Linked DNA regions of Homo sapiens. The protein of the gene in region 2 purifies or fractionates together with the protein of the main gene of each other region. This does not show direct contact. Each region holds a gene or a part of one and is shown on either strand. Other genes may lie near its edges.

Region 1 (3,500 bases), about 37 Mb from region 2:
GGCCAGTAGATCACTTGCGGTCAGGAGTTCAAGACCAGCCCGGCCAACATGGTGAAACCCTGTCTCTACTAAAAATATAAAAATTAGCTAGGCATGGGGGTGGATGCCTGTAATCCCAGCTGCTCAGGAGGCTGAGGCAGGAGAATTGCTTGAACCCTGGAGGCAGAGGTTGCAGTGAGCCAAGATGGCACTACTGCACCCAGACTGGGCTCAGTCTTAAAAAAAAAAAAAAAAAAAAAAAGGCCGGGCGCGGTGGCTCACGCCTGTAATTCCAGCCCTTTGGGAGGCCGAGGTGGGTGGATCACGAAGTCAGGAGTTCCAGATCAGCCTGGCCAATATGGTAAAACCCCGTCTCTACTTAAAATACAAAAATTAGCTGGGCGTGGTGGCGCACACCTGTAGTCCCAGCTACTCGGGAGGCTGAGGCAGAAGAATCACTTGAACCCTGGAGGCGGAGGTTGCAGTGAGTCGAGATGGTGCCACTGCACTCCAGCCTGGGTGACACAGCAAGACTCCGTCTCAAAAAACAAAACAAAACAAAAAACAAAATCCCAATAGATTTTCTTAGTGGAAGAGATGGTAGGTCTGTTCACCATTCACAGGTCAGGTCCTCTTTTTTTTTTTTTTTTTGAGACAAGTCTTGCTCTGTCGCCAGGCTGGAGTGCAGTGGTGCGATCTCAGCTCATTGCAACCTCCGCCTCCCGAGTTCAAGCGATTCTCCTGCCTCAGCCTCCCAAGTAGCTGGGACTACAGGCGTGCGCCACCATGGCTAGCTAATTTTTGTATTTTTCATAGAGACGGGGTTTCACCATGTTGGGCAGGATGGTCTCAATCTCTTGACCTTGTGGTCCGCCCACCTTGTTCTCCCAAAGTGATGGGATTACAGGCGTGAGCCACCATGCCCAGCAAATTTTTTGGCAGACAACTTAGAGTGAAGACTGACTGAATTAATTAATTAATTTTTGAGATGGAGTCGCACTCTGTAACCCAAGCTGGAGTACAGTGGCGCAATCTCAGCTCACTGCAACCTCTGCCTCCTGGGCTCAAGAGTTTTTGGTGCCTCAGTCTCCTGAGTAGCTTGGACCACAGGCATGCACCACCATGCTCAGCTAATTTTTTTGTATTTTAGTAGAGAGTACAATTTTTTTGGTATTTTGTATGTTGCCCAGGGTGGTCTTGAACTCCTGAGCTCAGGTGATCTGCCCGCCTTGGCTTCCCAAAGTGCTGGGATTACAGGCGTAAGCCACCGCGCCCAGCTCACAGGTCAGGGCCTCTTATCTCTGACAGCCCACAGTGAGCAACAATATTGACAATAGGTGTGCTTTATATCATGCTAAATCTTTTTGGGAAATTAAAATCTGTGAGTGTTTATAGGAATGTATGACATACATAAATGTCAGCATACACTTTGCAGTGGGTAAAAAAGAACTTCCAGATAATAGGAAAATGCTCATATTCCTTACCACATACAGCCCTTATGGCCTGTGAGCTCTGATCCAGCTACTTGCCGGCCTTCCACCACCACCTGCCTCTAGCACCCTATCCCTTTATCTTCCCTAGACCAAGCCCCCTGCAGATCCCCAAAGAGGCCATGCTTTGCTTTTTTAGTGGGGAGGGATGGAGTCTCACTCTGTTGCCCAGGCTGGAGTGCAGTAGCGCCATCTTGGCTCACTGCAACCTCCACCTCCCGGGTTCAAGTAGCTGGGATTACAGGTGTGCACCACCACACCTGGCTAATTTTTCTTTTTTCTTTCTTCTTATTATTTTTTTTAATTGAGACAAAGTCTTGCTCTGTCGCCCAGGATGGAGTACAGTGGGACAATCTCGGCTCACTGCAACCTCCGCCTCCTGGGTGCAAGCGATTCTCATGCCTCGGCCTCCCGAGTAGCTGGGATTACAGGCGCCCACCACCACACCTGGCTAATTTCTGTATTTTAGTAGAGACGAGGTTTCACCATGTTGGCCAGGCTGGTCTCAAACTCCTGACCTGGTGATCAACCTGCTTTGACCTCACAAAGTGGTGAGATTACAGGCATGAGCCACCGCGCCCAGCCTAATTTTTGTATTTTTAGTAGAGACAGGGTTTCACCATGTTGGCCAGGCTGGTCTCAAACTCCTGACCTCAAGTGATCTGCTTGCCTTGGCCTCCCAAAGTGCTGGGATTACAGGCATGACCCATGGGGCCATGCTTTTCTGCACTTCCAAGCCTTCCCTTGCTAGTGCTCGCCTCCTCAGAGCTCACTGCACACTGTGAACCTGCCACATTTGACTGCATTTGTTTGACTCCATGTCTATTACTGTTTGGACCAGGGATCAGATTTGGCCCAAATAGACTCTCCCTCTGGAGCATCTTTGGAAAAAATTCTAACATTCTACAGCTGTCAAATTCATCCCAGGCTGCCCCAGCCAACTCACCACCCATATTCATGCCCTCCTCATCTAGGTCCTGTCCACTGTCATAGCGAGTCTTTTTCTTGGGATCAGAGAGGATAGTAAAGGCCTCTCCAACTTCCTTGAACTTCTTCTCCTCCTCCTTCTGAACCTCAGCACTGGCTCCACTATGCCGATCTAAAGTGGGGAGTAAAAGAACAACTCAGTGGAAATCAAAGTTTCAAGAAAACAAAGTTTAAGAGAAAAACTACTTTCTGTCTAATTTTGGAATTTGGCACTTCCCAAAATTTGGAGGGTCCACAAGTCTGCAACACCTTATTCTCAGCTGAAGGACCTCTCCAAGGGGTCCCCTCTGGACTGAGTGTGGCAGTTGGCCTGCCCTGCGGGTTCTTCCCACTGAGCCCACTCCCCGCACCTACTCTACCTGGATGGTGCATCAAGGCCCGTTTCCGATAAGCTTTCTTGATCTCGTCCTCAGAGGCATTCTTGTCCACTCCTAGAATCTTGTAGTAATCTTTCCTCTTACTCTTCTTCAGTTCCAGCTGCGCATTTTTTAGGAGCTGTTTGTGTTCTACAGGAAGACATCTGGCATCAGTGGACAAATCTGACTCTGGTTTTTTCCTCACCAGGTCTCAGCCCAGCTGCCTGGGAGTTAGAGGCCTTGTTAACCATGCCAGGGACTTTTACGGTGCTTTCTTCTGGAGATTAGAAAAAAAATCTACTCGGCCAGGCACGGTGACTCATGCCTGTAATCGCAGCACTTTGGGAGGCCTGCATCAATGAGAGATGCAGGTAAATGAGACAGAAAAGGGAACTCTAAACACAGGTTTGCTTCTATTTCGGTAGCACGAAAGAAAGGAGGGGCCCTTGGCCCAAGATGGGAGGAATCAAGCTTGACAGAATGGATCACCCGAGGTCAGGAGTTCGGGACTAGCCTGTCCAACATGGTGAAACCCCATCCCTACTAAAAATACAAAAAATTAGCCAGGCGTGGTACCATGTGCCTGTAATCCCAGTTATTCGGGAGGCTGAGGCAGGATAATTGTTTGAACCTGGGAGGCAAAGGTTGTAGTGAGCTATGATCATGCCATTGCACTCCAGCCTGGGTG
Region 2 (3,390 bases):
CTAGTCATGTAAGTATTATTCCCATTTCCCAGCGGGGACCACTGAGGCCCAGAGAAGTGAATGACTTGACAAGTTCACCTAGCTTCTCATTGAGGAGTCCAGGATTTGGGTCCAGGTCTTCCTGACCTTAAGCCTATACCCTCAACCACTCCCACAGGGCCTTCATTAAGCCTCTACCAGGGCTGTTGCTTGAACAAGAGGCAGCCTCTCTAGGTCCTTCTCAGAGCATCTCCCTCACCTGCGGTTGTGATAGCAGCTCCACAGTTCTCCAGGTGCCCTGGTTGGGCCCTGCCCGTCCTTCTACCCAGGCGGCACTGTGTCAACACCTTCTCCTCTCAGGAGCCAGGTGACCGAGCTCCCGAAGCCACAGATAGGTAGAACAGAGGTGGAGAGAGGAGAGTGGAGGAGGGTGGAGATAAGGTGAAGGGGACTGGTGCCCCGTGTGGGCAGGAACGGGAGGCTGGAACGAGCAGTTAGTTCCTCCAAGGAAGACGCATGAACCTTTTCTACACCTTTATTTATGAAATGCTTATTGAACGGATACAAAGTTAGTGTCTGTCAGCAGGCTGGTGGAGGGAGTTAATGTGCCCTCCTTCCTTCCCCTGGTGGGGGCTGAAGCCAGAAGTGGCTTTATCCTTCCCTCCACCTTGGCAGCAATGGGCTGGGAGGGCCCTGGGACAGGGAGGGGGTTCAAGGGCAGGAAGAGGAAGGGAACAATGGGTAGTAGGGCCTGGGGCAGAGCCCCCTTCTCCTGGAATAAGAGGCTTGACCCTGCTCACCCTGGCAGGAGCTGTGCTTCTCCTTTGCAGCATGGAGAAGTGGTTTGCACTGGGCAGCAGGGGGGATGAGCTCTGGGACTCTCTCCTCCTCCCCAGCCCAGGGTTGGGAGTGCCCTTTTCAGCTATTTCTCACGTAAGGGTCCTCTGTAACACCTCTAGTTCCCTTCAGGAATGCCTGCCTCCCCAGATCTCAAAGGGCACTGCCCTCAGTCCTTGGGGTTAAGGGGCAGGGAGCCAGACGTGGTGGGGCACAGCAGCTGGTGACCTCTCCCTGACGGGGGCCTCAACTATGTCCACACTTCTAGGGGGATCATGCCCTCCTTGCTACCCAGCGGGGGCAGCAAAGACTCATCCTCTAGGAACTTGAGGGGGAAGTGGACCAGGTGGCCCTGGACCTGGGTGAGCTCAGACCGAGCCAAGGGGGGACTGACCGTGGCCAAGGGCTCCACGGCCACGTACTCCCGGAGAGTCCGCAGGGAACGCGTGGCATTGGATGGCAGGCAGCGGAAGATCTGTGGGCGGGGGCATGGACGCCAGTAAGGCTTGGGGAGACTCTCCCAACAATCTAAGTCCAACTAGGCTAGACCCCTTCCCCCATACCATCTCTCCATACCCCCCGTTGACCCTGGGCCACTAACTCTCTCTCTCTTTTTTTTTTTGAGACGGAGTTTCACTCTTTTTGCCCAGGCTGGAGTGCAATGGTGCGATCTCGGCTCACTACAATCTCCACCTCTCGGGTTCAAGTGATTCTCCTGCCTCTGCCTCCTGAGTAGCTGGGATTACAGGTGCCCACCACCATGCCCGGCTAACTTTTGTACTTTTTTTTTTTGAGACAGAGTTTTGCTCTTGTTGCCCAGGTGGCTGGAGTGCAATGGCGTGATCTCGGCTCACTGAAATCTCTGTCTCCTGAGTTCAAGAGATTCTCCTGCCTCAGCCTCCCAGCCACACCTAGCTAATTTTTTTGTATTTTTAGTAGAGATGGGGTTTTGCCATGTTGGGAGGCTGATCTCAAACTCCTGACCTCAGGTGATCCACCGGGCCTTGGCCTCCCAAAGTGCTGGGATTACAGGCATGAGCCACTGCACCCGGCCTGGGCCACTAAATCTCTTGATAGCAAATGTCCCCAGGCCCTCATCCCCCTTCCAATAATGACTGTATGGTGGCGCTTCTCTCCATCCTACCCTGAGCAGGATAATCCACAAATTTCCCCAGGCCACTCTCCCCCACCCCTCCCAAGTTCCCACCTGCTCATAGATATTGGCGTTGCTCTCAGCCATGTCTTGCCACAACTGGAAGAAGTCATCACAGATGGGGTCTCGGAGATCCAAGTCTGGCCGGGTATTTGCTCCAAGAATCACACTATAGGAGAAAGGGGTCCCAGCAGGGCCAGATTAAGATCCTTAGAGAACCTGAGTACCAGAAAAGTTACATTGTCCCTACTCAGGTAATTCAAAATTGGCTGGGTGCGGTGGCTCACGCCTGTATTCCCAGCACTTTGGGAGGATGAGGCAGGTGGATTGCTTGAGCTCAGGAATTCAAGACCAGCCTGGGCAATATGGCAAAACCCCATCTCTACAAAAAAATACAAAAATTAGCCAGGCACGGTGGCATGTGCCTATAGTCCCAGCTACTTGGGAGGCTGAAGTGGGAGGATCACTTCAGCTGGCGAAGTCGAGGTTGCAGTGAGCCGTGGTAACGCCACTGAACTCTAGCTGGGTGACAGAGCAAGACCCTATCTCAAAACAAACAAACAAACAAAAACAAAATAAATGCAATATAAAATAGTAAAATAAGTGTAAAAGAAGCCAACAGAGTTCTGATTTGTCTTGACTTTGATGACTACCTTGATGCTTTAAAAAATTATTTTTATTTTAAATTTTCTTCTTTTTCTGTTCTTTCCCCAATCCTCAGAACCTGTGAAAAAAATTACTTTTAAAAGATTTTTTTTTTGGCCGGGCACGGTGGCTCATGCCTGTAATCCCAGCACTTTGGGAGGCTGAGATGGGCGGATCACGAGGTCAGGAGATCGAGACCATCCTGGCTAACACGGTGAAACCCCATCTATACTAAAAATACAAAAAATTAGCTGGGCATGGTGGCGGGCGCCTGTAATCCCAGCTACTCGGGAGGCTGAGGCAGGAGAATGGTATGAACCCGGGAGGCGGAGCTTGCAGTGAGCCGAGATCGCGCCACTGCACTCCAGCGTGGGTGACAGAGCGACTCCGTCTCAAAAAGAAAACAAACAAACAAACAAAACACAAAAGTTTTTTTTTTTTGGCCGGGCGTGGTGGCTCATGCCTGTAATCCCAGCACTTTGGGAGGCGGAGGCGGGCAGATCACGAGGTCAAGAGATCTAGACCATCCTGGCTAACACGGTGAAACCCCGTCTCTACTAAAAATACAAAAAATTAGCCGGGCGAGGTGGCGGGTGCCTGTAGTCCCAGCTACTCGGGAGGCTGAGGCAGGAGAATGGCATGAACCCTGGGCGGCGGAGCCTGCAGTGAGCCGAGATCGCGCCACTGCACTCCAGCCTGGGCGACAGTGAGACTCCCTCTCAAAAAAAAAGAAAAAAAAAAAAGATTTTTTTTTTTTTTTGGCCAGGGGCGGTGGT
Region 3 (3,152 bases), on a different chromosome or scaffold from region 2:
TTTATCTTTTCATACATGTACAAGACAGACCTTATTTGGTAACAGCAACAATCCTCACACATCTCTCTTCCTTCCTTCCAGGATTTTAATGCCTTTTGTAAAGACCTGCCTAATGGTTCTGCCTTCAGTGCAGACAATATGGAAGAGTGTGACAGATGTTATCATTGCTCCATTGTGTACGAGCGTAGGACGATGCTTCTCTTCTGTCAGCCTGCAACTGAGCCAGGATTGAATACTTGGACCCCAGGTCTGGAGATTGGGATACTGTAATACTTCTTTGTTATTATAACATAAAAGCACCACTGTTCTGTTCATTTCCTAGCTGTTCTAATTAAGAAAACTATTAAGATGAGCAACCACATTTAGAAATGTTTATTGACAGGTCTTTTCAAATAATGCTTTTCTAATTAATAGCCAAAGATTTCATATCTAACTTTGTAACCAGAATTATACAGTAAGTTGACACCACTTAGATTTAAAGGCAGACAGTTTTGCTTTAGTACAATAGTATACATTTTATAATGATGAACTTATAATGATTAAGGGACATTTCTATAAAAATACTACAATAGTTTTATGCACAACTTCCCATTAAAAATGAGATTTCTTATTTGTTTGTCTGTTTTTACTCTGGGAGTAATACTTTTTAAATTACCTTTACATATATAGTCACTGGCATACTGAGAATATACAATGATCCTGGAAATTGCAGTAACAAAAGCACACAACGATTATAGTAACTATAAGATACAATAAAACAAATAAATATGAAAGTAGATTCATGAAAATGTATTCCTTTAAAATATTGTTTTCCTACAGGCCTATTTAACAAGATGTTTCATTTTACTGTATATTTTGTAGTTAATATAAATGTTGCTCTAATCAGATTGCTTAAAAGCATTTTTATTATATTTATGTTGTTGAACTAATATATGAAATAAGTAAATGTAGCTCCCACAAGGTAAACTTCATTGGTAAGATTGCACTGTTCTGATTATGTAAGCATTTGTACATCTTCTTTGGAAATAAAAGATAAAAGAGCGATACACAAAGCTTTCTTTTCTAACTTTTCCAAGCAAAATCTAAAATGTTTTATGACATTTTTCTGGCTGTGATCTTAAAATAATTCATATCTAAATAGTATTTTGTCTAGGAGATGCTTTCTCTCTAGTAGTTAGAAATTAAATCTGTGTCAGCATTCCTATTAATGTCTCACTTTACTTTCAAGTAATATTGGTGCTATTTAACATTTTACAGTAAATGTTACTTCTGATACTTTAGTACAATTTCAACTACAGTGATTCATGTAGAGAGACAGGGGAGTTGTCAACTTGGGCTACTGAACTACATGCATAAACTAAAAACTAACAGCTACAAACTTTTAAGATTTCTCTAATATTGGTATGTAACACAGGATAAAGTTATTCTTGTCATTTTGAACTGTAGAGTCCTATTTCAGTGTGATGAATCACTGTTGCTTTGAAAAATCTCATTATTTCTGGGCCGGGCATGGTGGCTCACCCCTGTAATCCCAGCACTTTGGGAGGCCAAGGCGGGTGGATCATGAGGTCAGGAGATCAAGACCATCCTGGCCAACATGGTGATACCCCGTCTCTACTAAAAATACAAAAAAATTAGTTGGGCATGGTGGCATGCACCTGTAGTCCCAGCTACCTGGGAGGCTGAGGCAGGAGAATTGCTTGAACCTGGGAGGCAGAGGTTGCAGTGAGCCAAAATCATGCCACTGCACTCCCGCCTGGCAACAGAGCAAGAGTCTGTCTCAAAAAAAAAAAGAAAAAAAGAAAAAAAGAAAAAAGAAAAATCTCATTATTTCAAAATGATAGACATATACCAAAAACAAGTCTATAATGTGAGTAGTTACTAAAATTTACACATCTTAAAAGTGTGTAAATGCTTAAATTTCAGAATTACCATCAGAACCTCAATTGACATTCCTTTGAATACGCTAATAAGTGACAAATAAGATTAATAAGATTTTTCAAAATCGCCAGGACTGGTGAATATAAATGATGATTGAACTGGAATAATATTGGGGACCAAATCAAATGAATGATTAAATTATGAAGCTCATATCCTTTTGAAGGTAGTTGCAAAGAGACATTTCAAAACTGCCCTAGGCCATTGCAGCATCCTTAGATGGGACGCATAATCATTACCTTAAAGCATCACCACTCATTTTGACCATATAGATTTTATTATGTTAGTTTAAAAGGTCAATCAGCCTCATGACTTTATAGTTATGTCTTGTATTTAAAAACATTTTTTATACATTTGGTTATGTTGATAAACCAAAAACATTTGATTAATAAAATATCTATTTGAATAAATTATGAGCTATCCTTTCAAACAGCTATTGGCAAGTTTTAAACCCAAAATATATACACATAGTTCTGTAATAAAACTGTTTGACTTCTCAAGTAACATGACTTCCTTATTTCTGAACAGTACTGGTTACTTTCAAAATGAATTTTTATTGAGATTTTCCATTAACTATTTTTTTCAAAGACTCAAATTTTGTACCAAGTAAATCCAGGCTTTATGTACAAACATGTTGTTTGTTTTATTTGGGGCTGGGGGAGGTATATGATGAGCAGACTTCTCGGAATTCATAATAAATTTTCTAAAAGCCTACAAATGTGTGTATTGCTTTTATTACAGTAAATATGGAATCTTTCATACTTATTTTTACCTTATTAAAAACTCAAAATAGATAATAAATACATTAGTTATTGCTTATTTGGGAATGTATTTTTAAAAATTATTACATTAGTAGTTGAATTCTTTGTTTTCCAGCACTTAAAGAGGTTCCATATAAATGTTCTATCATTTGATGAATAGTATAAAATAGCCTGTTCACACACCCACCATACTTCTTCTTTTTTATAGTCTCTTCTTGCTAATCCTAAATAAACTGAAATTTGTTTCCAATTTTTAAAATAAGAAAGTAACAATATAAATCACAGGCACTTGGATACCTGTACCATGAAGCTAGACTAGAGTCCAAAATTATTTTTGGAAAGTGAGTATGTGAAGAGTAGTTGCTGATGTTGGCATACATTTTCTTGTCAGTTCATCTGGAAAAACGACCAACCTATAATAATAAAGCAGGTGCTTGGCTTTTTAAAATGTTC
Region 4 (3,500 bases), on a different chromosome or scaffold from region 2:
TTCCTTTATGTCCTGACCTCTTACACATAAAGTATATGGTGAAAAAAATACATCATAAAAAAGTAATATTTGCTTTTATTTAATCGATATTTTGCAAAATGAAGAGTAAAGTCATTTTCCCCTTAATGATATAAATCTATGTAACATCAATCATTGCTCTGTCTTTAGTTTTGTCCTTTAGAGTATTTTTTGCCTTTAATGTCAACACATTACCTACCACATTAAATTGTTATCAAGTTCAAATATAGCATTTCTGTCCTTATCCACAGTGGAAGAATAGAAATGTAAATTAACAACATAAGACAAATTTATTACTTAAAGTAACTATTTTAAAAAATTAGATAGAAATTTAAAATCTGGTACACTTGCAGTAATAGATTTGGCACTTAAAAGTTTAAAAGAGCACAAGCTCTTTAAAGGAAGCTAGGTCAGAAATAGCAACAATTCATTTTTTGTAAAACTTCACTTGGCTACTTACGATCTGGGATATAAGGAATAAGGAGGATTAGAGACCATCAACTGGCTTAATAATGACACGAGGATCAATACAATTATGGGCATCAGCTGGATAAACACAGAAAAACCTCCCTATAAAAAATGATCAAAGAATAACAAATTGTAATATAACTGTAGTTGTTAATAATACAACAGTTGTCATACATTTTGAGGCAGAAAGCGCATTTGAGATCATCTAGTTCAGTGCTTTCAAATCTGCGTAACCATGCCAATAGGATGATTCTTAAATATAATTATCCAGGCATATCACCAGGAGATTCTGATTTGAAAAACACTGATAAAATTTGATTTCATTTTATAGATGAGGAAGTCTTCATTTCTTTCTCTTTCTCTTTCCCGACTCCCTCCCCCCCACACACAGAGACGCTATCAATATGCTGCAGGCTGTAAAACCATTTTTTACCTTGGATTTGAGGGTAGAAGATGGGAGCTGATGAGTGGCAAAGCTGGGGGCCAGGCCTTTTAATTTCTAGTCTAGTGCTCTTTCCATTTACCTTTCCACTTCATGTAATTAAATTGCTATAGGCAATTAGGTATAACTGCATTAGAACAAGGAAAGTTACCTCCAATTCAAGTTTTTCAGTACTCTAAATTCTTCAGGGCCAACAATAACAAGTTACCTTCACAACATGCATAGTGCAGGTGTACCTTCATTAGAATCATAGAATAACAAATCTAAAGGGGTCATACTATCCAACCACCCCTGGCTGACCTCTCTTCCTATTCCTACAATGTCCCTAAGGATTTTCTAGTCTCTACCAAACACCTCTAGTAAGAGAAAACTCATTATTTCCTACAACTACTTGCCCTCTTTTCAGACAACTCTAATTACTTTTCCTGAGCTGAAATTTGCCATTTTGTGATTTCTAGTCATAAACGTACATCTCCTCTTTCCTCTTCTCTTTCATGTCCACTATGTCGATGCTGATGTTGTTGGCTATAACCAGCTCTTCCATTTGAAAAAGAATGTACACTACCTAAAAAATTAAAAGCAAGGTTAAATTAGGGAGAGCAATTATGATCAGAAAAAATACATTTTCTTTCACATTTTTCTTTAATTTTAAAAAATTACTAAAATAATGCATGTGTATTTTCAGTAGTAAATACTTATTGCCCTCTCCTCTTGTAAGTGAAGGGTGGACAGAAATAGGAATGATTCTTCCCAATCTGCTTCCGTTACAGGTAGAAGTTCCTTCTTTATGAAAACTTGACTAAGAGTTTCTCTACACACATAGAGGTTTTTATAAACCTCTTTTGTTTATGATTAGTTGTGATTAGTTGTTTTTATAAATGTTGGATTATTACTTTGAAACTTTGCTTTTTGCATTTATCAATGAATCATAAACATCTCTAGAAATCAAAAGATAGTGTTCAAATTCATTTTTAAAAAATAGCCCTATAATATATCTTGGTATAGATGGACCAGAATTTATTCAAACACTCTCTTGCTGATAAACATTCAAGTTGTTTTCATATAAGATGACCAATCAGAAATGGCTACCATTGACAAACTATGTTATAACTAGCAAAATAACTGCAAATCAAGTATCAGAAGAAAATTTACTACTGCCTGAAAGATTTCTGATTGTTCCTAGTATACTTCCAGTCAAAATTACTAGTTTTAATAATTTTTCTGTAATTATGTATTCTAACATGTCAAAACACAGGTTATATTTTCAGTCATTAATTTGCATTTATATATCCTCTTTCCTTCAAGGATGCTTTGCAAAACGTCCTATCAATGACCACAACCTTGCCAGGCATGGTGGCTCACCTCTGTAATCCCAGCACAGGATTTGGGAGGCTAAGGTGGGAGGATTGCTTGAGGCTGGGAGTTCAAGACCAGCCTGGACAACATAGCAAGACCCTGTCTCTACAAAAAAGTTTTAAAAAAATTAGCCAGACATGTGGTACATGTCAGTAGTACCAGCAACTTGGGAGGCTGAGATGGGAGGATTGGTAGAGCCTAGGATTTTGAGGCTGCACTGAGCTATGATTGCCCCAGTGTACTCCAGCCTGGGCAACAGAGCAAGACCCTGTCTCTATTAAAAAATAGAAAGAAATGACCACAACCTTTCTCAATAATATTCAGAGAGGGCCACCAGGTCCAATTATACTGCTACATTCATGAAGATTCTCTTAATGTTGAATGGGATTTACTTCAGCACCTGAAGTAAATTTTGTAAACAAGACTAAAGCTATAATTTTAAGTACCTTAGAGGAGCTACATTCAAGGAAAATAGATTTCCACAATAACAACTCACAGTACAGTAAGTCCTCACTTAACGTCATCAAGAGGTCCTTGGAAACTGCAACTTCAAGTAAACATGATGTACTATATGCCTTAGCAATTTAACTGTTGTTTATATCAATTAGCCTGCGGTAAAATTAGTTGTTATACAGAACATTGTTTCACTTACAGTCACAGTTTCCAAAAACCTTATGTTAAGTGACCACTTACTGTAAATGTAAGTGGAGTTTGATACTATTTATGTTGGTACTATAAAATCTTAGTATCACTACAATATTTCACTTTGATAGTCTAGTTAAAGTTAGCTATTTCTATTTTAATGTAAACTTAAAAATCCACTTACTTTGTATATAACCTATGAATCAGATTTTCTACTGTTTAAATGGAAATAGAGATGAGTACCTCTACATATATCCAAATTAGCCAACTATAATGTTATTGATAAAATATTTACAAAGATCTCTAGGGAAGCAATGTCAAATAGTTATCCAGGTTTAAGTAAAGAAAACCATTCATAATTATAATAGTACTTACCTAAGACATTGCCATTACATTTCCTGCTTACATTCCCTTTCAGCTTTATATAAAATACAGAATATCTGTACTCTTCATTTTTTTAAATTAAAATATGTTCTAGGAAAAAGGCAGGCTATTATAAAAGTAATAACCCTAATATTTTTCTCCTGCTTTCATGAAAAACCATTACAGGATCGTAACACTACAAGAAATGTAG
Region 5 (3,500 bases), on a different chromosome or scaffold from region 2:
AAGGCCAATCCTAAAATGGCTACATTAAATATTTTATGTTATCATTTAACATATCTCTATGCACATGAAAGAACTACAACTTATACATATTTAATTAAGATCTTTAAAAATATCCATGGATATTTTTTTTTGGAGACAAGTTCTCACTTTGTTGCCCAGGCTACAGTGCAATGGTGTTAATCTCAGCTCACTGCAGCCTCGACCTCCTGGGCTCAGCTGATCCTCCCACCTCAGCCTCCCAAGTAGCTGAGACCACAGGTGTGCACCACCACGCCCAGCTAATTGTATTTTTTTGTAGAGACAGGGTTTTGCCATGTTGCCCAGGCTGGTCTCCAATTCCTGGGCTCAGGCAATCTGCCTGGTGCTGGGATTACAGGCATGAGCCACTGTGCCTGGCCCAAAATGCTTTTCTTACTTGGCTATCTCCACAGGAAACCTTCCAGAAGGATAGCTCAGCCATTTCTGAATTAGAGCTTCATTCACTGTCCAGATCTGCTTTGTCGGATTGGGACATCTGAAGTCATCTGGTGGCCCACAGTTCTAAATTTTCAAATAAGATTAGTCAGAGGGAAGAGATATTATATATAACTCAAAAACCAAGAAATTCCCACCATATATTTGTTCTTTAAACAGAATTAAATCTCTCCTGAACACCTGAAACAAAAACCTATCAAATAGATCAGAAAAAACTTATTCTGTAGACTTAAGGGGAAAAAAACTAAGGCAATTACTTTGTAACATATAAAGAACATTAATAATGGGTTTTTAAAATTTGTCAAAATTATTGGAGCTATTTAATTATTTACATGACTATATTATTACCTGGGGACTAGAGTAATGTGAAAAGCTTTGATCTCCCCCTGAGAAAATTCTTTTTACACAGAAATATTCTTCAGAATCTGTAATAAAAATGTAAAAAATTAAAAGCCAAGATTTACATAACATATTTCAGAGCATCAATATGCCATTAGATTTTCACATAATCATCTTATTTAATAAGGCCTCCCATTCATGGACTTCATGGTATAAAGTGACTTGAAATATTCTGACTGCTATGGGGATGAGACTGACCAAATGATGAACATTAAACGATCCCACAAGCATAAGCAGCATTTGGTGAAGTTTACAAGCCTTTCTTCTGCCCTGCACCAAGAAAAAAAGCTTTTTCTAATCTGCATCTCAGTATATTTCAGTTTAAACCAAAGATGATTTAAAAAAAATAGAACAAAAGCTACAAAAGATAGCTAGAAGGAAATAAAAATCAAGAGTATTTATTCTTGGCGAGGCACAGTGGCTCATGCCTGTAATCCCAGCACTTTGGGAGGCTGAGGTGGGAGGATCATTTGATGTTAGGAGTTCGACGCCAGCCTGGCCAATATAGTGAAACCCCATCTCTACTAAAAATACAAAAATTAGCCAGGCGTGGTGGTGTGTGCCTGTAATCCCAGCTACTTGGGAGGCTGAGACAGGAGAATCGCTTGAACCCAGGAGGCGGAGGTTGCAGTGAGCCGAGATCACCCCACTGCACTCCAGCCTGGGCCAGAGCATAAGACTCCACCTCAAAAAAAAAAAAAAAAGAAAGAATTGAACTGGGCTACAGTGGCACATGTCTGTAGTCCCAGCTACTTGGGAGAGTGAGGCAGGAGGATGGCGTGAGCCCAGTTCAAAGCTGCAGTATGCTATGACTGCATCTGTGACTAGCCACTGCACTCCAGCAAGCAACATAGCAAGACCCATCTCTAAAAAAAAAAAAAATTATTCTTAAAAAGAAACAGCAAACAAAAATTAAAACTTCTGGAGTAAATATTTCATAATGCAGAATTTTTTTTTTCAATATAGGTGTACAAGATAATACATACAGCTCTTTGTTGGCAGCTATTTGTCAGTAAAAGCCAAATTAGGCCCCAAAGTGAATACATTAATAAGCAAATTTATTAGGAATAAAGAAAGGGCAACAAAGTTTCTTTTGAAAAAGATATTCCGGGCCTCTTTTTTTTCTTTTCTTCTGCTCCCCAAACTGGAAAGAGTATCTATTACCAAAAATATTGCTTGGCTAGTCCATAGTCTATCCCTGTTATCCTATTCCCATTCCTTAGTTGACTAATTCTTCACCTTGTATTATTTGTGACCATGGCTGCTATAGAATTATCCATTCTTTTCAAGGAAATGACCACATGTTAATTTCCTTGATTATTCCTTACAAGCAAGCACAATGTTTTATTTGTAAAAGAAATCAGTAAATACCTGTCCATACAAATATGCAATTGTTATCTAGGTTATACCAAAAATGAGCTTCAGAGTTTAGAACAATAATTTGATAATTACTATCAAATTTTCCGTAAGTCACAAGAATACCCTAAGGCCAAAAACAAGTTTTAAGAATAGAATAAAAGGGTAAATCTTTATTAAATAAGCCAATTATTCAACCTAAAATCTTTTTTCTAAATAATTCTCACAAATCTATATGGAATTGCTCATTTCCTCAAAAGATTTAGCAGGATGTTATTTATTTACTCTTAAAATGTGATTGTGCCCTCTATAAACAATTCCCTACAAGATGGTTGACTAATCTACAGTACATGAATGGGTTTCTGGAGGCTATGAGTTAGGTACCAAAAGTTAAGTTTCCTTAATTTCCTTTTTTTATTTTTATTTATTTCTTTTTTGAGACGGAGTTTCACTCTTGTTGCCCAGGCTGGAGTGCAGTGGCGCGATCTTGGTTCACCGCAACCTCCATCTCCCAAGTTCAAGCGATTGTCCCACCTCAGCCTCCCAATTAGCTGGGATTACAGGCATGGGCCACCACTCCTGATTAATTTTTTATTTTTAGTAGAGACGGGGTTTCTCCATGTTGGTCAGGCTGGTCTCGAACTCCCAACCTCAGGTGATCCGCCCACCTCAGCCTCCCAAAGTGTCAGAATTACAGGTGTGAGCCACTGCACCTGGCCTTATTTTTATTTTTTGAGACAGGTCTCACTCTGTCGCCCGGGTTGGAGTGCAGTGGCATGATCTCGGCTTACTGCAACCTCAGCCTCCCGAGTAACTGAGATTACAGGCGCCCACCACCACATCTAATTTTTGTATTTAGTACAGATGGGGTTTCACCATTTTGGTCAGGCTGGTCTCGAACTCCTGACCTCAAGTGATCTGCCCACCTCAGCCTCCCAAAGTGCTGGGATTACAGGTGTGAGCCACTGCATCCTATCCTTAATTTCCTTTTAATCACTACTCGAAAAAGTTTGAGAAACCTAGTCATTTGTCCTGTACAACTTTATGCAGACTGGATTTTGCTGACTTTATCTTTGTGGTTTCTCCTAACATTTGGCTTGGTCTTCTGTTCTGTAAATTGGTGGTTGAATCTAGACAGGTTTCAATCACCATTTGGTTATTTCAGTAAAACTACTACATGGAGGCAGGAGAGTAGTTCCATCAGGAAACACATAATTCCTTTGAGAAGAATTTTCACTGAGTTCTTTTTTGTGGTGGTAGTAGGCATTGAT
Region 6 (3,500 bases), on a different chromosome or scaffold from region 2:
TGTTTGTTGTCTGTACTCTTCATGTGAAGAGGGAATTCATATGAATTAAGGGTAATAGTGTCACAGAAGATTGCTACCTCACACACAAACAGGTAGTTCATTTGGGGTGAATGGATTCTCCAACTATTTTATAACTGGGAGCTTCTGATAATTTTTTGGAAAACATTTGAAACATTAAAACTTACTGAATCTTACATATTTGTCTGAGTTAAAAATATAAAAAGAATTATGGATCATGGATGGTAATTTGCTTGATAGCATCTGGTTTGCAGACTCATAGTTTGATTTTTAATTAAATATATAGCTTATGATGAAGTCAATAAACATATCAATGAATAGTTAACTATATTAAATTTTTATCAGGTTGGGCACTGTGGCTCAGGCCTGTATTCCCAGCACTTTGGGAGGCCAAGGCAGGTGGATCACTTGAGGTCAGGTGTTCGAGAACAGCCTGGCCAACATGGCGAAATGGACTCTCTACTAAAAGTACAAAAATTAGCCGGGCGTGGTGGCAGGCACCTGTAATCCCAGCTATGCAGGAGGCTGAGGCAGGAGAATCACTTGAACCTGGGAGGCAGAGGTTGCAGTGAACCGAGATCGCACCACTGCACTCCAGCCTGGGTGACAGAGTGAGACTGCATCTCAAAAAATAAAAATAAAAAAAAATTTTATCATTTACTTTTTCTAAGTTTCAAATCTCATGTATCATATAAATTTCAGTTTAATATCAACCAAAGAAACAAAATTTTAATCTAACAAAAACAATATTTTCTCTTCAACATATATATGTTCATATGTTCATTTTGTACATGATATTAAGCTCATAAATTCAATATTAGAGACTAGCAGAAAGAGAATTTGGACTTCCTTTTCAACAAGGAGTTTCTGTTCATAAATTTTTTTATTTCAAAGAGGTAGGAAGAAAATGGCAGATAAACAGCTTAAACAAAACACCCTGAAATCCAACCACTCAAGGAACAGAATTCCTTCCTTAGAGAGTTAAATGGAGACATCTGTTCCTTTTATTTTAAGGAAAATCAGTCCTTTCCCATTCTTTCTTAGGTCTGTTCACTCTTACATTTCTAGAAAAATATAAATAAATTTCATTTCCAAATTAAATTTTAAAAAACAATTCCAAGTTCAATATATTATCACTGAATTAGGCTATTCATAAAATTTCTTGGAACCAACATTATTATAACTGTAGCTTTCCAACTGTTTCATCCAATAAACTTTTCATTTTTATTTATCCGTCCTTGACCAAGTATACATGATAATATTCTGCTAAAAAAGGGAAAACAATTGATATTATTGATTTTTCACTTTCCATTTTAAAAATGATGATGTTATCACATCAGCATCTGGCTGTGGACCAACAGGGAAGAAAGGAAGCTAAAGGTGATGAAAGAGAAAAAGGGAAGAACCCAGTGATAAGGAATAGGGATAGAGGAAATAAAGAACCACCACAGGGTAATAGGAATTCTAGATGTCCTGGAAAGCAGTTCATGCTCCACAAGTGTCTTCTGCAATAGAACTCTGGTATCCAAATGAAAATAGCTCAAGAGGCCCAAAGAGGCCCCAGCACTTTGGGAGGCCAAAGCAGGAGGATTGCTCAAGTCCAGGAGTTTGACATCAGTCTGGACAACATAGTGAGATCCAGTCTTAAAAAAAAAAAAAAAGAAAGAAAGAAAGAAAAGAAATCCAAAAGAGGTGTCACAGGTTGGTGGTACTCAGGACAGTGTTTCTTCAAGTGGGTTCCTTGAACACCTACATATCAATCAGCCAGCTCCATTGTTAAAAACACATGTTCCCTGGCCCTACCCCAGATTTTTTGAAGCAGAATCGCTGGGAATAGGGCCCTCAAATGTGCATTTTTAACAACCACATTTGATGTATATTCAGTTGGACAGTCACTAGAATGGAGCTCTATCCTGAGAAGGTCCTAATTCCCTGCCTTCTGGTATTACCGTCAGGCCTCCCCACCACCCTCCATGTGATCAGTGTGCGGTGGGTCACCCTCCCTTGTTGTCAGGTGATATGAAGTGGGAAAGTGCCACCAGCCTAGGCTGGTGAGATAAGCTTACCTCCTAATAGCTTTTTTTATTTTTTTTATTATTATTTTTTATTTTTTTATTTTTTGAGACTCTGTCACCCAGGCTGGAGTGCAGTGGCACAACCAGGGATCACTATAGCCTCCAAGGCCCAAGCAATCCTCCCACCTCAGCCTTCTGAGTAGCTGGGACTACAGGCCAAGGTAATTTTCGTATTTTTTGTAGAGATAGGATTTCACCCTGTTGCTCAGGCTGGTCTTGAACTCCTGAGCTCAAATGATCCACCTGCTTCAGCCTCCCAAAGTGCTGGGGTTGCAGGCGTGAGCCATCACAGCCCATCCTAATGGCTGCTTTCACAGCTACTTTACCTTCTCCTAGAAAATGTAGAGAAGGCAAGAAAAATACCCTCCTGGATATTAATTAGCCTGCGTCTCATGCTGGCAGTAGACCTAGGTGGAACTCTCCAAACTAACCATAGGATCAAAACCACTATTTTGGGACCTACCATGCATGGGCAAAAACAGATATTTCTAATGTAGCTTTTACCTTTAGAAGGTAACAACAAGATAATTAAAACTGTCATACTAAAACATGTAATGATTTTAAAATGCTTACCTGAGCACGCAAAGAATTTTTTCCAGATGTTTAACATCTGAACATTTTTCAATGTATTTGAAATCTAGATGTTCAATGGGAATTTTGAATGTTTTTGTTGTTCCAAAGCCCCACAATGATGGATAATCTTTGGTGGTCATAGCTGAAATACAATATTTAAAAGTTATTAATCTAATGTATAAATAATACTCAATTTGGATAGTGGTAACCATGTAGGTACTTCTTTGTATTTTTTTGAATTTTTAAAAATTTTTTGTAGAGACAGAGTCTCCCTATGTTGCCCAGGCTGGTCTCTAACTTCTGGCCTCAAGCAATCCTCCTGCTTCAGCCTCCCAGAGTGCTGGGATTATGGGCATGAGCCATTGTGCCTGTCCCACCTAGGTGTTCCTGGACCAAACTGAGGGTTGGCCTGCTAGTTTTGTGGCCCAATAACGAGATGCAGATGAACCGAGGAGGAAGACGTTATTTACTTCTGCAACTGGCTACAGGGAGAAGGCCTGGAAATTATCACCAGACCAACTCAAAATTACAAAGTTTTCCAGAGCTTATATACCTTCTAAGCCATATGTCCATGTGTAAGCGTGCATTCATCTAAAGACATAAGTGATTAACTTCTTTTAATCTATATCTAAAGTCTGAGTGCTGAAGACCTTCCTCTGGGGTCTCAGTAAATTTACTTAATTTAAATGGGTCCAGGTGCTGGGGCAATTACCCTTATCTTGTCTCCTGCTAAATCACAGAGGTTTGGGGAGTTCCTTCAGACCCTCCATAAACTTGTTTGTGGAGGTCTGGGGAGTTTCTTCAGACCCACAGTAAAACTTGTTTAATCCTAAG
Region 7 (3,500 bases), on a different chromosome or scaffold from region 2:
GCTCTGCTAGCTCTGGAGGTGAATACTAAGTGGATTCTAATAAGCATAGCTCATTTCTATGAGTTGCCTACATGTCGTATTACCTTGGGAAACTGTATACAAATAGCCACAGGAGAAGGGGCCTAAAAATAGTAAACCAAAAGGGCAAATGTAGCTCTTACTTCACATGCCAAGGAAAAAAATTAATAAAAATAAAACAAAATGGCAAATGACCAGGGATATCATGAAAGGGGGAGATGTCTGTGATAAGGAAGTTGGTGAAGAAAACAGTATACCCTGTCCACTTCACAGTGATCAAAGAAACTGAAAATATTGAGCAATTAGGGCTGGCAATTTTAGCATTCTTTCTCAAAAGTCCATAGTTTTATGCTGTAAGAATCTTCTAGGACAATGATCAAGAATGTACAACTATCAAGAAATTAGTGTAAATAAAAGTGAAAGTAACAAAATGTAATTCAGGGTAAGAATGTTAAACAGAGGCCTGGCGCGGTGGCTCACACCTGTAATCCCAGCACTTTGGGAGGCCGAGATGGGTGGATCACCTGAGGTGGGGAGTTCCAGACCAGCCTGACCAACATAGAGAAACTCCATCGCTACTAAAAAAAAAAAAAAAAAAAAATACAAAATTAGCCGGACTTGGTGGTGCATGCCTGTAATCCCAGCTACTCAGGAGGCTGAGGCAAGAGAATCGCTTGAACCTGGGAGGCAGAGGTTGCGGTGAGCCGAGATCACGCCATTGCACTCCAGCCTGGGCAACAAGAGCGAAACTCCATCTCAAAAAAAGAATGTTAAACAGAATATCACAAAAACACCTGTTACAGTTAATTGTACAAAATGATTCAGAAAGTGATAGTAAATCTTGGCCAGGCCCGGTGGCTCACGCCTGTAATCCCAGCACTTTGGGAGGCCAAGGAGGGCAGATCACCTGAGGTCAGGAGTTCAGACCAGCCTGGCGGCCAACATGGTAAAACCCCATCTCTACTGAAAATATAAAAATTAGCCAGGCATGCTGGCACACGCCGGTAATCCCAGCTACTTGGGAGGCTAAGGCAGGAGAATGAGAATGGGCTTGAACCTGGGAGGCAGAGGTTGCAGTGAGCCAAGATGGCGCCACTGAACTCCAGTCTGGGTGACAAAATGAAACTCTGTCTCAAAAAAAATAAGTAGGGTGGGGGGGGGGGTTGTAAATCTCAATGACAGATTTTATACCAAACAAATCATCCAAAATAAGATTAGCAAAAAGGAAAAGAAAAACTTTAGTTTTTAGAGTCCAGCTCAGGCAGTCCAGCTCAGGCAGTCTCAAAATATCTTCAGTCACTGCTTTTTTGTTTGTTATTTGCTTTGTTGGGCTTTTTTCCCCCATAATAAGAACTCTTAAAAAAGAGCCACTTCACTTTTACAACTATGCTGTATCAAATAAAGTTCTGACATTTGACAAGCTTGACCCATTTATCAAGTTAGTTATCACCATGAAATACATACAATGGTTTTGTCTTTGTTTTGCCACTTCTATGCTGAGAAAGAAAGGCAGAGAGAGGCGATGGAAGGAAGTCTATTTAGCAGAAAGTCTGCTAGGCTCCTGAGCTAGCCAAGACCGGCTGCCACATGCCCCCTCCCACTGGTCCTTTTAGCAGTATCAAATGAGGCTTTTTCCTTAAGAGGTGCAACCATTCGTTCACACAATCAACATGGCAAAATTCTTCATCCACATTTTTCTAGGAATTAAGGGGAAAATGTTAGAATACAAAATTCTAGAGGCCAGGCATGGTGGCTCACACCTGTAATTCCACCACTTTGGGAGGCCAAGGCAGGTAGATCACTTGAGCTCAGGAGTTCCAGACCAGCCTGGCCAAGATGGTGAAAGCCCATCTCTATAAAACATACAAAAATAAGCCAGGGGTAGTGGCTCACACCTGTAGTCCCAGCTACTAGGGAGGCCTAGGTGGGAGGATGGCTTGAGTCCAGGAGGCAGAGGTTACAGGGAGCTGAGATCACACCACTACACTCTAGCCTGAACAACAGAGACAGGCCTTGTCTCAAAAACTCTCAAAAAAATATATATATATAAATTGAAGATGAAGAAGACAGACCACAAGGCTGATTGGAGTGATGTGACAGTCCAAATTTCTAGCACGTTCAAACACTAAGACTTACCAAGTGCTTGCTGCTCAATCTACCCACATTTATCCTTTGGAAAGTCTCTGCTAGTTCCACCTCTACATCACTTGAGATACAATCAAATAACCTTCCATCCATAAGCATTTAAGCCCTACCTATACAGACAGGTATCTCATTATATTTATTTACAAACACTAGCTAAAAAGCACACTTGGAATACAAAATTTCTCATGAAATTACTATGTTTCACTAATTTTAAGACAACTATTGTTTTATGAAAAATTCTACCCATTTTAATCGTAAGATAACTTCTTTCCCTTTTTTTTTTTTTTTGAGACGGAGTCTTGCTCTGCTGCCCAGGCTGGACTGCAATGGCGTGATCTGGGCTCACTGCAACCTCCGCCTCCTGGGCTCAAGTGATCCTCCCGGTCAGCCTCCCAAGTAGCTGGGACTATAGGCACGAACCACCACACTCAGCTATTTTTTTCTGGAGAGACGGGGTTTCCCCATGTTGCCCAGGCTGGTCTCAAATTCCTGGACTCAAGCAATCCACCCACCTCAGCCTCCCAAAGAGCTGGGATTTACAGGCATGAGCCACCGTACCTAGCCACCGTTTTATCATTTAAAAAGAAAGATTGAGCTGCATGGGCATAATCTCCTAATCTGATGCTCAGGCACATGCCAGCACGCTCAGCTAATTGTTGCCAGGCTGGTCTCGAACTCCTGACCTCAGGTGATCCACCCACCTTGTCCACCCAAAGTGTTGGGATTATAGGCGTGAGCCACCGTGCCCAGCCTTCTTCCACGTTCTTAAGGGAAAAATGTCCTCTTTCCCCCACGTTGCTAAGCCCTCTTCTCTTCCTTTTATCAATCACCTCTTAAAACTTCCTTCAAATAAGGAGAAAATTTGAATACAACTGGCCAGGCACAGTGGCTCACATCTGTAATCCCAGCACTTTGGGAGGCCAAGGTAGGCAGATCACATGAGGCTAAGGAGTTTGAGACCAGCCTGGCCAACATGGCGAAACCCCTTCTCTACTAAAAATACAAAGATTAGCAGGGTGTGGTGGGGCACTTCCGTGATCCCAGCTACTCAGGAGGCAGAGGCATGAGAATCCCTTGAACCCAGGAGGCGGAGGTCACAGTGAGCCAAGATCTCACCACTGCACTCCAGCCTGGGCAACAGAGCGAGACCCTGTCTCCAAAAATAAATAAATAAATAAACATAACCCTCTCTTTCCTTGTTATGCTTTTTGGAAAGTAACATACTAACTTATCCAACACAGTTATTTGTCCAAAGTTCCTACATAGCTCTATAAACCCACATAGCCCTTGTCCTACTGAATGATGCTATGTCCTAACAGCCTTTGTACAATACATCC

The links.
Region 1: the proteins of PLD2 (region 2) and DNAJC7 purify together in Homo sapiens (affinity purification with mass spectrometry; 4 studies listed by BioGRID and IntAct, with this or other methods). This does not show direct contact.
Region 3: the proteins of PLD2 (region 2) and CAV2 fractionate together in Homo sapiens (co-fractionation; one study listed by BioGRID). This does not show direct contact.
Region 4: the proteins of PLD2 (region 2) and DNAJB14 purify together in Homo sapiens (affinity purification with mass spectrometry, with the first as the bait; one large-scale study listed by BioGRID). This does not show direct contact.
Region 5: the proteins of PLD2 (region 2) and HERC4 purify together in Homo sapiens (affinity purification with mass spectrometry; 2 studies listed by BioGRID and IntAct, with this or other methods). This does not show direct contact.
Region 6: the proteins of PLD2 (region 2) and SPAG1 purify together in Homo sapiens (affinity purification with mass spectrometry, with the first as the bait; one large-scale study listed by BioGRID). This does not show direct contact.
Region 7: the proteins of PLD2 (region 2) and UGGT1 purify together in Homo sapiens (affinity purification with mass spectrometry, with the first as the bait; one large-scale study listed by BioGRID). This does not show direct contact.

Annotation. Positions count from the first base shown.
Region 1 is NC_000017.11:41,979,440-41,982,939, forward strand, and holds part of DNAJC7 (dnaJ homolog subfamily C member 7), read right to left. Parts: intron 2,963-3,500; coding exon 2,816-2,962; intron 2,569-2,815; coding exon 2,416-2,568; intron 1-2,415. UniProt on the Homo sapiens protein: Acts as a co-chaperone regulating the molecular chaperones HSP70 and HSP90 in folding of steroid receptors, such as the glucocorticoid receptor and the progesterone receptor.
Region 2 is NC_000017.11:4,820,541-4,823,930, reverse strand, and holds the end of PLD2 (phospholipase D2), read right to left. Parts: intron 2,139-3,390; coding exon 2,024-2,138; intron 1,292-2,023; coding exon 1,067-1,291; 3' UTR 501-1,066; downstream 1-500.
Region 3 is NC_000007.14:116,505,890-116,509,041, forward strand, and holds the end of CAV2 (caveolin-2), read left to right. Parts: intron 1-81; coding exon 82-232; coding exon of another isoform or gene 233-270; 3' UTR 271-2,652; downstream 2,653-3,152. UniProt on the Homo sapiens protein: May act as a scaffolding protein within caveolar membranes. Interacts directly with G-protein alpha subunits and can functionally regulate their activity.
Region 4 is NC_000004.12:99,905,119-99,908,618, forward strand, and holds part of DNAJB14 (dnaJ homolog subfamily B member 14), read right to left. Parts: intron 1,494-3,500; coding exon 1,399-1,493; intron 1,036-1,398; exon of another isoform or gene 920-1,035; intron 589-919; coding exon 479-588; intron 1-478. UniProt on the Homo sapiens protein: Acts as a co-chaperone with HSPA8/Hsc70; required to promote protein folding and trafficking, prevent aggregation of client proteins, and promote unfolded proteins to endoplasmic reticulum-associated degradation (ERAD) pathway.
Region 5 is NC_000010.11:67,991,784-67,995,283, forward strand, and holds part of HERC4 (probable E3 ubiquitin-protein ligase HERC4), read right to left. Parts: intron 900-3,500; coding exon 823-899; intron 541-822; coding exon 416-540; intron 1-415. UniProt on the Homo sapiens protein: Probable E3 ubiquitin-protein ligase involved in either protein trafficking or in the distribution of cellular structures. Required for spermatozoon maturation and fertility, and for the removal of the cytoplasmic droplet of the spermatozoon.
Region 6 is NC_000008.11:100,161,587-100,165,086, reverse strand, and holds part of SPAG1 (sperm-associated antigen 1), read right to left. Parts: intron 2,809-3,500; 5' UTR 2,807-2,808; coding exon 2,667-2,806; intron 1-2,666. UniProt on the Homo sapiens protein: May play a role in the cytoplasmic assembly of the ciliary dynein arms. May play a role in fertilization. Binds GTP and has GTPase activity.
Region 7 is NC_000002.12:128,097,700-128,101,199, reverse strand, and holds part of UGGT1 (UDP-glucose:glycoprotein glucosyltransferase 1 precursor), read right to left. Parts: intron 1-3,500. UniProt on the Homo sapiens protein: Recognizes glycoproteins with minor folding defects. Reglucosylates single N-glycans near the misfolded part of the protein, thus providing quality control for protein folding in the endoplasmic reticulum.